2 separate regions of the Homo sapiens genome follow, and region 1 is linked to region 2. Evidence: fine-mapped expression QTL. Tissue or cell type: whole blood. Region 2 holds a variant in brackets; the other region holds the start of a gene. All regions are shown on one strand. Distances are between the middles of the regions.

Region 1 (5,996 bases), 24 kb after region 2:
ATCTGCCTTAATTGAGACCCCACCTGACTTAAAATTTCAGAATTACACTCTGCGTGTGATTGATTTCCTTTTTCCCTCTAGCACCTATAATTTTCTGTTACATCATCACACCCAACAGAGGAGAGAGAAAAAGATGGCACATGAAAAGGATTAGGGGATCAGCCTCAAAGAAATGAAAATCTGACCCAAACAAACACAGAAGGAGGCAAAGGAAGCAGGCTGACATTTGGGGAGGTGAAAAAAACAAGACCCCAGCGATCCTCATGTTTTATCTTACCTTTTCAAATCAGTCCCTGTGATCTGCTCCCGGTGCAAAACTCCTTTCTGATTTCCACCATCAGCTACACCCCACCTCTCCCCTAAGCAGGGTCTTTGAAGTCCAGTCTCCCTAAGCTCTTGGCAGACACCAACATGGGAGGGGCCCTGCAGCATCTGTCACACAGCTCCTCACCCTTAAGTGTCAGCGACAACAGGAACTGCTGAGCACAGTCACGCTACCTCCACTCTGTAAGCACCTGAGAAACAATGCTGACAGGTCCCTGAAGGGCTTCCACACAAAGGTGTGTAAGAAAGAGACACACTGCTAGACACACGCACATGCCCTCCAAGCAGGGGGTAAGAAGTGCGTCATGAAGAGCATGCACGGGAGAGAGGAGCCGGGAGGCAGGCTGCCTGCAGTCCTCACAGCTGGTCACATAAGCACATGGGCAGTTACAGCTGGGCCTGGGTCCATGAGGACGTTGCTGGCCAGTTCTGGTTTATGACTGTCACACAAAGAAATAGCAGACCAATCAATTGATGTTTATTTATTGAATGTCGCCTTTTTCCAAAGAGGATTTACGGCGTGAAAGAATACAGGTGGGTTTGTGTGAGTGTCTGAGCCAACACTGATGGACATGTTTTTCTGTGCACACCACCTAGGGCCTTTCTTCATCCCTAGACTGACTGTGGAGAAAATGTACCCTCCCTGAACTGAGCCTTCCCATGACATGCACAGGAATGTGCGAGGGACCACTTTCCCCTCCCAGCCATTTACCCTGGGATTCTGCCACTCTGAGTCCCAGGTTCATGGCCCACCTCAGGCAAAGACTGTTCCTCCCTTCCCATAGAGACCCTTCACTAGTTTCTCTTTCACTCACACACATCTGGACACAAAGTGCCTGTGTCTTCATGGGCCAGCTGCGTGGGAAATGTCCTGTGCACACTCCTACATGCACATACACACTCCTACATGCACATACACACATCATACTAGGACGCTATTTTGACGTGTGCATCAGAAGTGAAGTTACAGCTGGCTGATGAGTGTGCACAGGCACACATGCACACTTCCTCATCCGGGTATTCCTCCAGCAGCACCAGTCACACCTTAACATACACCGTAACACACTCCCTCTGCTCTGCCAGTGTGTGCAGGAGCTGCTCAGCTATGACCTTATTTGACCCACCTTTGCAGACAGCCCTTCTCCCCGCCATTTCCATAGTGGCCGCCTGCCTCATGGGCTGTCACACCCCATGCCCACCTCCCTACACACCCCCTCCACTAAATCCCCGTCTGCGCTGGAAGCCATCAGGAGGCCCGTCTCTTTCTCTCTCAGGCAGACACATCCCTTTCACACCTGTGCCACACCCCCAGCCCGCCACGCACCCACACAGCCCGCCGCCCGGCGTGGCTGCTGAATGGAAACCACACATCTGAGTCTCACACCTCCCTCGTGTGTGAGCTGCGTGGGAGCCTCCCGCCGTGTGCTGTCACGGGCCTTCCGTGGCTGTACGCCCGTTTTTGTCAGCTCCTAATAGAGTCGCCCAGAACAGGAGAGAATACCCATTCACCGTGACACACTCACACTCCCTCCCGGCAACGCCACGCGTAAACAGCCACCCGCGCCTCAGCGTACCCGCCCCACACTCCGCAGGCGGCCCCTGGGACCTTCACAATGCGGCCTCCTCCCCGCGTGGCTGTCACACACGCCTCTTCCCCCGAGTGCGCAGGCACACAATGCACTCGCACACACACAAGCACACGCACACACATGCACACCCACACGTGCGCGCCCCCCCGGCCCGCGAGGCAGCAGCCTGCGCACCTGCCCCTGAGAGCCGCGGCGTGGGGGCCACGGTGCTGTGTCCCAGCTTCACCGCCGCGCCTTTGTCGGGGGTCGCCCGGCACGCCAGGCGCCCGCCGCGGCCCCCACGCACCCACTCCTCGTGCGCGTGTGTCGGGGCGGCGCCGCGGCCCGGCCGGGACACGCGCGCTCCCGGCGGCGCCGCACTCTGGCCCCTTTGTTGGCGGCCCGGGGAGCTGTCCAGCACCGCGCCCACGCCGCCGCCCGCCCTCCCGCGCTCGGGCCCGGAGCGCACTCACCCCCAACCAGCAGAAGCAGCAGCGGCGAAAGCAGCGGCGGCAGCCGGGCGGCCCGCAGCAGCCGGCCCATGGTGTAGCCGTCGCCGCCTGCAGCCGCAGCGGCGCGGCGCCCGGGCCCGCGTCAGGGGCCGCGCGGGCGGCGGCGGCGGCGCGCGCCCGCCCCATTGGTCCGCATGGCCGTCACTCACGCCCGGCCCCGCCCGGCCGCGTGCCGCGGGCGCGCCCCCGCGGAGACGAAGCGGACGCGCGGGCGGCCGTCCCTCCGCCCGTCCCCCCCGCCAGGCCGGCCAATCAGCACCGCCGAGGCTCGGGGGCTTGGCCCGGCCGCCCGCAGACCTGGGCCTCGCACCTCGCGCCCGGATGCCGCTCTCTCCCCGCGCGGTCACCCGTTCCCTGGGAAGCAGAGTGGGCAGCTGTGGCAGATGGGACTGATGGGACGAGGACGACGCGTGGAAATGACTGTGAGGGTGGACAGAGGCCTGGGGTAAGGAAAGACTTCTCAGGGTACTTAGATTGGGTGAGCCCTGAAGGAGAACCTGAGAGCAAAGAACTGGACTTTAGAGCTAGGCAGTCTGGCTCAGGATCAGATTGGTTCCGAGACCTTGAGTAAATCTCTTCTCACCTCTGGGCCCCACTTGCCCCATTTGCTAACTGGGGGGTTTTAGATTATGAGAGAGGTGCTGACTTCTCTAACATGTGCTCCCTTTTGGCAACTGAAGATCCTTAATATGCCAAGCACTGTAGTGGTAAATAAAACAGGCACATCCCTCGTCCTCATAGTTTAGGCTCGTAGAGAAAACAGACTGAAAAACAAAATGGACACACATATGGTCCTATGATTGCAATTGGTAGTCGGTCTGTTAAGGAGTATAAGGGGCTAGGAGACAGCACAGAGGGGAACCTTATGCTTGCCTTCCTGAAGAAACAGCATTTAAGGTAAGCTGGCTGGCATCTGGAAGGATGAGTGGGTATTAGGTAGGAGATTGGGTTTGGGAGAGAACTTACAAGGCAGAGGGAAAAGCTCACTGATAGAGTTCCTGAGTTAGAAAGAAGCTCAGCCTCTTTTAGGGAGAGAAAAACCCCGACTACCCTTTTAGAAGTACTGCAGCTTAAATATACAGCAACCACAATTTTGTGGAATGTTACTTTATATATACCATATTAGGAAAACACTTCTTTAAAATAACAAATCGTTATTTGAATATGCTTTTTCAAAGTATATCCCCACCCCCCTATGCAGGGGTATAGCATCAGACATTGGAGATAATCTCACGGGACTCTTCCAGACTAAATATTAATACTTAGGAGAAATAGGAGTTGGGGTGGAGGAGCATAGGGAAGAAATGGGTTCCAGACAAAAGAAAGAACATGAGCAAAATGTAGCACCTTTTATTTGGTGGGTGTTAGGGGTACTAGAAAAGTGGCTGTCAGCTGGGCTTGGAAAAGAGAAATCCAGGGTGTGTCTAGACCCAGCTTCCCTCTTCTTTCCTCCTCTGAGGATGAAAGGAGCATCCCTTTGGTTTTTTGTTGTGTTTTGTTTTGTTTTTCTGTTACAAGAAACAAAGATCTTAGAAGCAAACAAGAAATGGAAGGAAACGTCCTCAATTCCATTAAGGGTATCTCCCAGAAACCTTTATTATCATACTTAATGGTGAAACCATACTTAATGATGAAACATTAGAAACATTCTCTTTTAAGTGAATGGAACAAAATAATCCTCACTACCACCACAATGATTGAATATTCTATAAGAGACACTGCAACAAGGCCTGATAGAAGAAATGGGATGAAAGTATTGGGGGAAAACTCATTATTTGCAGGTTTATCTAGAAAATGCAAGATCATCAGTTGGCAAAATAATTGAAAACCAATGAGTTCAGCAAGATTGCTGAATAAAAGATAACGTACAGAAATCAATAGCTTTTCTGTGTATCCTCAATAACCACTTAGAAAATGTAGTAGGAGAAAAGATCGCAATCACAGCAACAATTATTAAAAACTGGAATAAACCAAACCAGATATGTAAGCTCCAAATGAAGAAAACTCTAAAGCTGCCAGGGGTGGTGGCATGTGCCTGGAATCCCAGCTACTTGGGGGAGACTGAGGTAGGAGGATGGATCACTTGAGGCTAGGGGTTTGAGACCAGCTTTGGCAATATGGTGAGACCCCCATCTCTAAGTAAATCAATTAGCCAGGTGTAGTGGTGCATGTCTGTAGTCCTACCTACTTGGGAGGCTGAGGTGGGAGGATCACTTGAGCCCAAGAGTTCAAGATCAACCTGGGCAACAAAGCAAGATGCCATCTCTATGAAAAATTTTAAAATTAGCCAGGCATGGTGGCACACACCTGTAATCCTAGCTACATAGGAAGCTGAGGTGGGAGGATTGCTTGAGCACAGGAGTTCAAGGCTGCAGTGAGCTATGATTGTGCCACTGCACTTCAGCCTGGGTGACAGAGTGAGACTCTGTCTCAAAAAAAGAAACAAAAATTTAAGTGAAGGCAATCCTCAGAATGGGAAGAAACATTTGGAAATCATGTATCTAGAATATACAAAGAATTTTTACAAGTCAGTAATAAAGACAACTCAATGTTTTAAAATGGACAAAGATCTGAATATACATTCCTCCAAATGTCAATAAGCACATGAAAACATGCTCAGCCTCATTAACCATCAGATAAATGCAAATCAAAACCACAATAAGAAACCACTTCTCAGGCTGGGTACGGTGGTTCACGCCTGTAATCCCAGCACTTTAGGAGGCCGGGCTGGGTGGATAGCTTGAGGTCAGGAGTTGGATACCAGCCTTGCTAACATGGCAAAACCCTGTCTCTACTAAAAATACAAAAATTACTCTGGCATGGTGGTGCATGACTGTAATCCCAGCTACACAGGAGGCTGAGGCATGAGAATTGCTTGAACCCAGGGGGTGGAGGTTGCAGTGAGCTGAGATCACACCACTGCACTCCAGCCTGGGTGACAAAGCGAGACTCTGTCTCAAAAAAAAGGAAACCACTTTGCGTCTCACTAAGGTGGGTGGCTAGAATTAAAAAGAGAGACCACGTGTTATATAGGATATGGAGAAAGAACCCTCCTCGTACACTGCTGATGGGAATGTAAAATGGTGCAGCTGCTTTGGACATAGGCAGTTTCTCAAAAGATTAAGCATAGAGTTACCATATGACTTCATAATTCCACTCCTAATACATACCTAAGAGCATAGAAAACATATGTCTAGTCAAATACATTACAGGAATGTTCATAGCAGCATTAGTCATAATAATCAAAAGGTGGAAACAACCCAAATTCTCATCAACTGATGAATGCATAAATAAAATGTAGCATACCCATACAATGGCATGTTGGTCAGCAATACAAAGAAAGTACTGACACATGCTACAACGTGGATGAACCTTGAAAACATTATTCTAAGTGAAAGAAGCCCATCACAAAAGACTACATATTATATGATTCAATTTTTATGAAATGTCCAGAATAGGTAAATCTTTAGCAATAGAAAGCAGATTAGTGGTTGCCTAGGGCTGGTGGGGAAGGAAGAGGAGTAACTGCTAATGGGTATGTTTTTTGGGGGAAGGGAGTGATGAAAATGTTTTAAAAGTGTGATAATTTGCA
Region 2 (7,778 bases):
GACAGGGTCTCACTCTGTCACCCAGGCTGGAGTGCAGTGGTGCAATCACGGCTCACTGCAGCCTCAAACTCCGAGGCTCAAGTGATCCTCCCACCTCGGCCTCCCAAGCAGCTGGGACCACAGGGCCACTACACCCCGCTAAATTTTTTTATTATTTGTAGAGACAGGGTCTCTCTACACTGCCCAGGCTGGTCTCGAACTCCTGAGCTCAAGCAATTCTCCTACCTCAGTCTCCTGAGTAGCTGGGACTTACTGGCACACACCACCACACCTAGCTATTTTTTTTTTTTTTTTTTTTTTTTTTGAGATGGAGTCTTGCTCTGTCACCCAGGCTGGAGTGCAGTGGCGCGATCTTGGCTCACTGCAACCTCTGTCTCCCAGGTTCAAGCAATTCTCCTGCCTCAGCCTCCTGAGTAGCTGGGACTATAGGCATGCACCACCACGCCCGGCTAATGTTTGTATTTTTAGTAGAGACAGGGTTTCACCATGTTGGCCAGGCTGGTCTCGAACTCCTGACCTCATGATCCACCCACCAAAGCCTCCCAGAGTGCTGGGATTACAGGCGTGAACCACCGCGCCCAACACCTGGCTAATTCTTTAAAATTATTATTTGTAGAGATGGGGTCTCCCTGTGTTGCCCAGGCTGGTCTTGAACTCCTGGGCTCAAGCGATCCTCCTGCCTTGGCCTGCCAAAGTTCCAGGATTACAGGCATGAGCCACTGCACCTGGCCTGGGCTTCAGTTTTTATGTGGAATGAGGATGATGGTATATATGATTTCTAAGGTTCTTCATATCACTGATATTTTAAGCTTTGGATATAGTTCTGATAAATGTGTCTTATACACCAATGGCATTACAAACAACTCTAGTGTCTTAAGTAAGAATAAAATAGGATTCACTAGATTACAAATTTTTGATGCCAAGCAAAGCAATTGTCTTCATCCCTACATTCCCAGCACCTAACATAGTGCCTGGCCCAGAGTAGAAAGGAGAGCAACGTGTGTTTTTGAATTCTTCTGCCTCCTAAAAACCAGGGCCTGTGCCTCCAAGGGGTAAGAGGCCCTCCCGTCACTGCACAGACTTCTTTACTGTCTCTATGAGTTCCTCTCCTGCCTCCCAAAATGCAGTCCCTTCCAGGGTCAGCCTCTGACTCATCATTTCCACACTTCTTCCTTGGTCAGTGCTCATTCCACAGGCTGCATCTATTTTCTCTATGCTAAAGGCTCCCAAATTTACATCTTCTCCAGAGCTCCTCGCTTTTTTCCAGCCTCTCACTCCAGTGACTTGACAAATCACTGAACGCTTGCTCACTGGCACTTGGAATCAGCAGTCCTTTCCTACTTCCTTACCAGCTCTCAAGATCTAAAATTATTCCTTTTCTTTTTACAGTGTGGTCTCAGTTTCACTGCTTATCAGCTGTATGATCTTGGACATGCTGCTTAACCTCCATGTGTCTCCCTTTCCTTAAGTGTAAAATAAAAATAGTACCTGCCACACAGGGCTCTGGTCAGGGTTCAGTGAGGTGACCCTGCGCACAGTCCGCAGTGCAGAGTAAACACTCAGTTAACTGTGGGGGGTCCTCCACCTCCTCCTGCTATTATTATTGTTGTTGTTATTATCATTATTATTATTTGAGACAGAGTCTCACTCTGTTGCCCAGGCTGAAGTGTAGTGGTGTGATCTCGGCTCACTCCAACCTCCACCTTCCAGGTTCAAGCAATTCTCCTGCCTCAGCCTCTAGAGAAGCTGAGATTACAGGCACCTGCCACCAAGCCCAGCTAATTTTTGTATTATGGCTGGGCATGGTGACTCATGCCTGTAATCCCAGTACTTTGGGAGGCCAAGCGGGGGGTGGATCACCTGAGGTCAGGAGTTCAAGACCAGCCTGGCCAACATGGTGAAATCCCGTCTCTACTAAAAATACAAAAATCAGCCAGGTGTGGTGGTAGGTGCCTGTAATCCCAGCTGTTTGGGAGGCTGAGGCATGAGAGTCGCTTGAACACGGGAGGCAGAGGTTCCAGTGAGCCGAGATTGCACCACTGCACTCCAGCCTGGGTGACAGAGTGAGACTCTGTCTCACAAAAAAAAGAAAGAAAGAAAAATTTGTATTTTTAGTAGAGACGGGGTTTTGCCATGTTGGCAAGGCTGGTCTCAAACTCCTGACTTCAGGTGGATTCGCCCACCTTGGCCCTCCAAAGTGCTGGGATTATAGGCGTAAGCCACCGCACCTGGCCATCCGCCTGCCATTATTATTATTAAAGGAGTTATTACCTGGTAAAATAATAACAGGAAAAGTGGAAGTGTCTCCATAGAATGAGGAGCAGGATAAGCACTTGAGTTTTTATTTTTCATTTTTTATACCGAATGTAACTAAAGCCTAAGCACTTGAGTTTTAAGTCAAAGAAAATCTAGGAAAAAGGGCAGGGCAGGAGGGGATTACTCATCTGTTGACAAGTGTAAATATGATTTCAGTATTACAAATGTCTCCTAAAACAGAAACAGAATTACCGGGAGGCCTGATGGGAGCACACACTAGGAACCAGTGGGGTGAGGGGCGTCTGTGTGGGCAGCTGCAGGGCAAACACCAGCAGTGTGAAAGCAGGGGTCCCAGGAGAGGGCCCGTGAGACTGGATCCAAATGGGAGTTGAGAATAAAGAGTGAAGAAGCCAGGCTTTACCCAAGAGCAGAACCACGGTACGATTCACTAAGAAGATACAGCATCACGTCCACAATATGCCTGCCAAAAATGCAGAGCCTGAATCTGACCATGGGGAAATTTGAGACAAACTGAAATTGAGGGGCAATCTACAAAATAACTGGCCTGCACTCCAACAATGTCAAGGTCATGAAAGACAAAGAAAGATTAGAGGGTTTTCCAGAATAAAAAAGAGACAAAAGAGACATGCGGACTAAATGCAGTACGTGATTCTGGACCGGATAGTGGACTATGAAACCCTGCTCTTTTTTTCTTTTGCTATAAAAGACACTACTGGGAAAACTGGCAAAGTTTGAATAAAGTTTGTAATTACAGAAGCATATTGTATCAGTGTTAATTTCCTGATTTTGATCATCCTGCTGTGGTTTTTAGGAGAATGCTTTGTTCCTAAGAAATGCACACTGAAGTATTTGGAGCAAAGGAGCATCATGTCTGCAACTTACCATTAAATGGTTTAGCAAGAAGTACAGATCTGCATCTCCATATCCATACATGTACACATACACACTGATACAGCAACTGCGGCAAAGTGTTAATAATGGGGGAGTCCGAGCAAGGGGTGGACGGAATTATTCTTGCAACTTTTCTGTAAATTGAAAATTTTTTAAAATAAGGAGTAACAGAGAGAGCGTGCACATGTGAGAGACACTTTCTCTCTTTTTTTTTTTTTCTTTTTTGAGATGGAGTCTCACTCTGTCACCGAGGCTGGAGTGCATTGGCACGATCTTGGCTGACTGAAACCTCCGCCTCCTGGGTTCAAGCAATTCTCCTGCCTCAGCCTCCTGAGTAGCTGGGACTATAGGCACACGCCACCACGCCCAGCTAATTTTTTGTATTTTTAGTAGAGACGGGGTTTCACCTTGTTGGCCAGGCTGGTCTTGATCTCTTGACCTCGTGATCTGCCTGCCTTGGCCTCCCAAAGTACTGGGCTTACAGGAGAGAGCCCCTGCACCCGGCCTGAGACACTGACTTTCACTACAGGTCAGCGAACATGCTTGAGCTGTCAAGAGGGGAATAGAAACATGGCAAGGGACAGGGCAGGCTATCCTGGCTGAGAGCGCAGAGCCCTGTGGCAGGAAGGAGCCACACCGCCCTGAAGCAGGTGAGACAGTTTTGAGAGACAGGGAGGAAGGTGCTTTTCCCACTCAGGTGTCCAAGGAATACAGATCAGGCTTCTAGGGACTCGCTGCATTGAGAGGGGAGAGGAAGCCTCAGCAGGCACTTTGGAGGTGAAAAAGGATCAAATTGGGAATGGAAGAAGAGAAACAAAGAAGTGAAGCTGAGCAGGAAAAGGAGGGAGATGAAGATGAGGAGAGTAAAGAGAGGGGAGAGGCAAGAGGAGAGGGAGGAGAGAGGGGACACATGACAGGGCTACCTGCCCTCCCAGCCTGCCCTCAGTGACCCAGGGCAAGTCCTTGATGCCCACACCCTCAGCCCTGCTGCCGTGGACAGCTCTGATTCCAGAGGGAGGGTCTGACCAGCTGAGCGCTCCAGGGAATCCCTTCCTACCCCATCCACTTCAGGCTCAGGAGAAGGGTCCCTCCACGAAGCCCTTTTAGTTTGTAGCCAAACCCCAAAAGCGTGTCTGGGACCAAGGTGTACCTCTAGAGCCCCACACCTGGACACAGGTGTGAGGAAGCCGAGCCGCCCGGGAGACACACTGGAGACACGTGGAAGTCTAAGGGCTGGCTCCATGGATTCATCCCTGTCCTCAGGAAGAGCTGGGGCACTGAAGGATGAGAAAGGTCATCCAAGGCTCAAGCCCTCCAGGGAGAGGCTCGGGCTGGGCCTCGGAGCATGGGAGGCCACGAATGTCTAAGCTGCAGCTCAGAAGACACCTGGGGCAGACCCCCTCGTTGCACAGGAGAGCCCTGGAGGACCTCCTGGATTGATTGCAGGATAACACTTAGGCTCCTGGGCTCCCGACCCTCCCAGAACTGCTGGGAATGGCACTGTGAAGTCACAGCCCC[C/G]CCTGGTGGCTCTAAACAGAAACCACATGTTCCCCAGAGCCCTCAGAACAGTTGGGTCTCCAAATCCCAGACTCAGGGATTTTACAGGTAGACAGAGGCCCTGCAAGAGCAAAGGGCCCATCTCTCGCCTTTTCCACATGAGGGAGCCCAGGAGAGGAGGATTCTTGCTCTAAGTTGTGATGCTAGACTTGTCACAGTTGTAAAGTTGTAAGACTCTTAGACTCTTGTGTGGTTAAAGCCAGTGTCTTTTGACACATCCTGGTCATTTAGTCCAGCACCCGGGCTTGGCTTGGGATGCTGGACAGGAGCAAGCTGACAAGCAGAATCATGACCTCTCCCCAGTCTGCCCGTACCTTTGTGGCCGCAGCCAACCTCCTTAAAGCTGGGCTTGAATCACAAGAGTGGCTGGCGTTAAGAGCCCCAGGCCAAGCTTCAGGGTTCTGGAGGCATGGGCTGGAATTCTGGGTGGCCACTTGCCTCTGTGTGCCACACACCCACCTCTCCATGATGTGAGGCTAATACCTCAGGTTGTTACAAAGATGAAGTGGCATCAGGAATGCAAAACACCCAGCCCACAGAAGGCACACTTTCCTTCTGTCACACTCCATGTTCTCTGCTCCTCTCAGCATCCACACAGCCCAGCTCACGGCAGGTGTATCCGTGGTTAGGGTCAGGGTCCTAACACGGGAAGGGACCACAGGAGGCTACCTGACGAGGCCTCAGCCCTCTGGCAGGCACTGGTGAGTCTAGAGAAGATGGGCTGGCAATTATCTTCAAGAATATGGCTGGGTCTCTTTAGAGAGGCATTTCTGTGTTATTGACTTACCCCTACACCCCCATTTGCCTAAACCCAGCTGTGATGGTTCCTTTACAACTCAAGTCCATCTCTGTTTCATCTGGTAAGTGAGCAGCACCTGCTAGCACCGCCTTCAGAGGAAACAATGTACATAGTCTCTTAGTTGCCCCTAAACCTAGCTTCTTTTCCTGGGGCTAAACAACTGTAATTATTCTTTATTCTCAACCTTTCTGTTTTCATCCTTCTCTTGTGAAAACTCTGGATTCACCCTGGTGTTTTTTGTTTGTTTGTTTTGAGATGGAGTCTTAGTCTGTCGCCCAGGCTGGAGTGCAATGGCACGATCTCAACTCACTGCAACCTCCGCCTCCTGGGTTCAGGCGATTCTCCTGCCTCAGCCTCCCGAGTAGCTGGGATTAAAGTGCCCGCAACCACATCTGGCTAATTTTCGTATTTTAGTAGAGATGGGGTTTCACCATGTTGGTCAGGCTGGTCTTGAACTCCTGACCTCAGGTGATCCACCCGTCTCGGCCTCCCGAAGCGTTGGGATTACGGGTGTGAGCCATCGCACCCAGCCTCACCACAGTTTTAGGAGTATTACAGCTGGGCGCGGTGGCTCACGCCTGTAATCCCAGCACTTTGGGAGGCTGAGGTGGGTGGATCACGAGGTCAGGAGATGGAGACCATCCTGGCTAAAACGGTGAAACCCCGTCTCTACTAAAAATACAAAAAAAAATTAGCTGGGTGTGGTGGTGGGTGCCTGTAGTCCCAGCTACTCAGGAGGCTGAGGCAGGAGAATGGTGTGAACCCAGGAGGCGGGGCTTGCAGTGAGCCGAGATCGCACCACTGCACTCCAGCCTGGGCGACAGAGCAAGACTCCGTCACAACAACGACAACAACAAAAAAAACAAACAAAAAACAAAAAAGAGTGTTACAAAATCAGCACAGGGGGTACACAGTAAATATTTGCTGAATGAACTATTGAAAACTGAACAAGATTCACTAACTTGAGACTAATTGATGCAAAATGTAAAGGGGTTTCTCCACTCCAGTGGCACTACTGTCATTTATCACAGCTGGTAAGCTGAGCTCTCCCGCGCCCCCTGTGATGGGTTGGTGCTGGCTCAGATGCAGCTCCAGCTCACCCTGATGAAGCCCCAGGCCTGGGTCCCCTAGGCCTTATTTCTCCGCTTTCTTTTAAACTCATTATGGTGCTGGCTTTGTTCCCTAAATAGATCATTTTTCCCTCCTATATTTCATCACAGTTCTGTATAGGTTTCTTTCCCCAGTTTATCGAAGTCACTCTGGACTTTACTTCTATCTCTCAGGGCAGCCATAATCCCAGGGATGAACTTCAGCACAGGCTGAAATATCAATGAACTGATTCTTCTATTCAAGAGACAGAATTAAAACAGGCATAAGGGCCAGAGCCCTTGAAAGATCACTTTAAATGTCCCTTTAGGTTAATGTCAAGTCACTGAAAATTGTCCCCTCACTACAACTCTCAAGTCAGTTATCCAACTGAGTGTTAATATAAAAACACTCAAAATTAAAAATAAATATGTCTAAAACAGAGGTGCAAGGGAAGACGTTTTAGTATAACTTAAAACTACTTTTTTATTTAAGACAAAGTCTTGTTCTGGTGTCCAGGCTGGAGTGCAGCAGTGTGATCTGGGCTCACTGCAGCCTCTGTCTCCTGCGTTCAAGCAATTCTCCTGCTTCAGCCTCCTGAGTAGCTGGGATTACAGGCACCCACCACCACACCCAGCCAATTTTTGTATTTTTAGTAGAGACGGGGTTTCACCATGTTGGCCAGGCTGGTCTCGAACTCCTCACCTCAGGTGATCCACCCGCCTCGGCTTCCCAAAGTGCTGGAATTACAGGCGTAAGCCACCATGCCTGGCTTAAAACTACTTTTTGATAGTCAACCTCAATAGTCATCAAAGGAATATAAAGTAAACTGCAAAATGCCAAAATCTTTGGACTACCAACCTGACAAGTATATGTATACATTCAAAGTCATTCATGCCTAGTATTGGAAGGGTGAGGGATGGGAAGGAAAGCAGGCCACATTTCTGGAGAGCTACTGAGTCACAGGAACGAGAAGCTTTAAAGACAAATATTCTGAACCTACAATCTCACTTCTGGAAAGGTACCCTAAGGAGACGATTAGGGACGCTCACAGTCATGTGGCTTTATAGATCCCCATCATGGCACAGTCCATGTAGCAGAAGACTGGGGTCCAGCACCCACATGGCAGGGGACTGCCCAAAGAAATGATAGACCCGCCTTATACTGG

Evidence for each region. PIP is the estimated chance that this variant, and not a neighbour inherited with it, causes the effect.
Region 1: PODXL2 starts here. The variant in region 2 is fine-mapped to the expression of PODXL2 in whole blood (TOPMed, PIP above 0.99).

Annotation. Positions count from the first base shown.
Region 1 is chr3:127,625,659-127,631,654 of GRCh38, reverse strand. It overlaps PODXL2 (podocalyxin like 2), which reads right to left and starts at 2,470. Exons shown (of 8, transcript NM_015720.4): 1 at 2,366-2,470. The coding sequence starts at 2,435. It overlaps LOC107986126 (a long non-coding RNA gene), which reads left to right and starts at 2,692. Exons shown (of 2, transcript XR_001740892.2): 1 at 2,692-2,849. RefSeq lists an enhancer at 1,768-1,827 and silencers at 2,228-2,357, 2,468-2,537.
Region 2 is chr3:127,649,261-127,657,038 of GRCh38, reverse strand. All of the region lies in intron 2 of PODXL2 (podocalyxin like 2), which reads right to left. Among named protein-coding and RNA genes, the nearest start is that of ABTB1, 20 kb to the left of the region's middle. The variant C/G (reference allele first, on the strand shown) is at 4,687.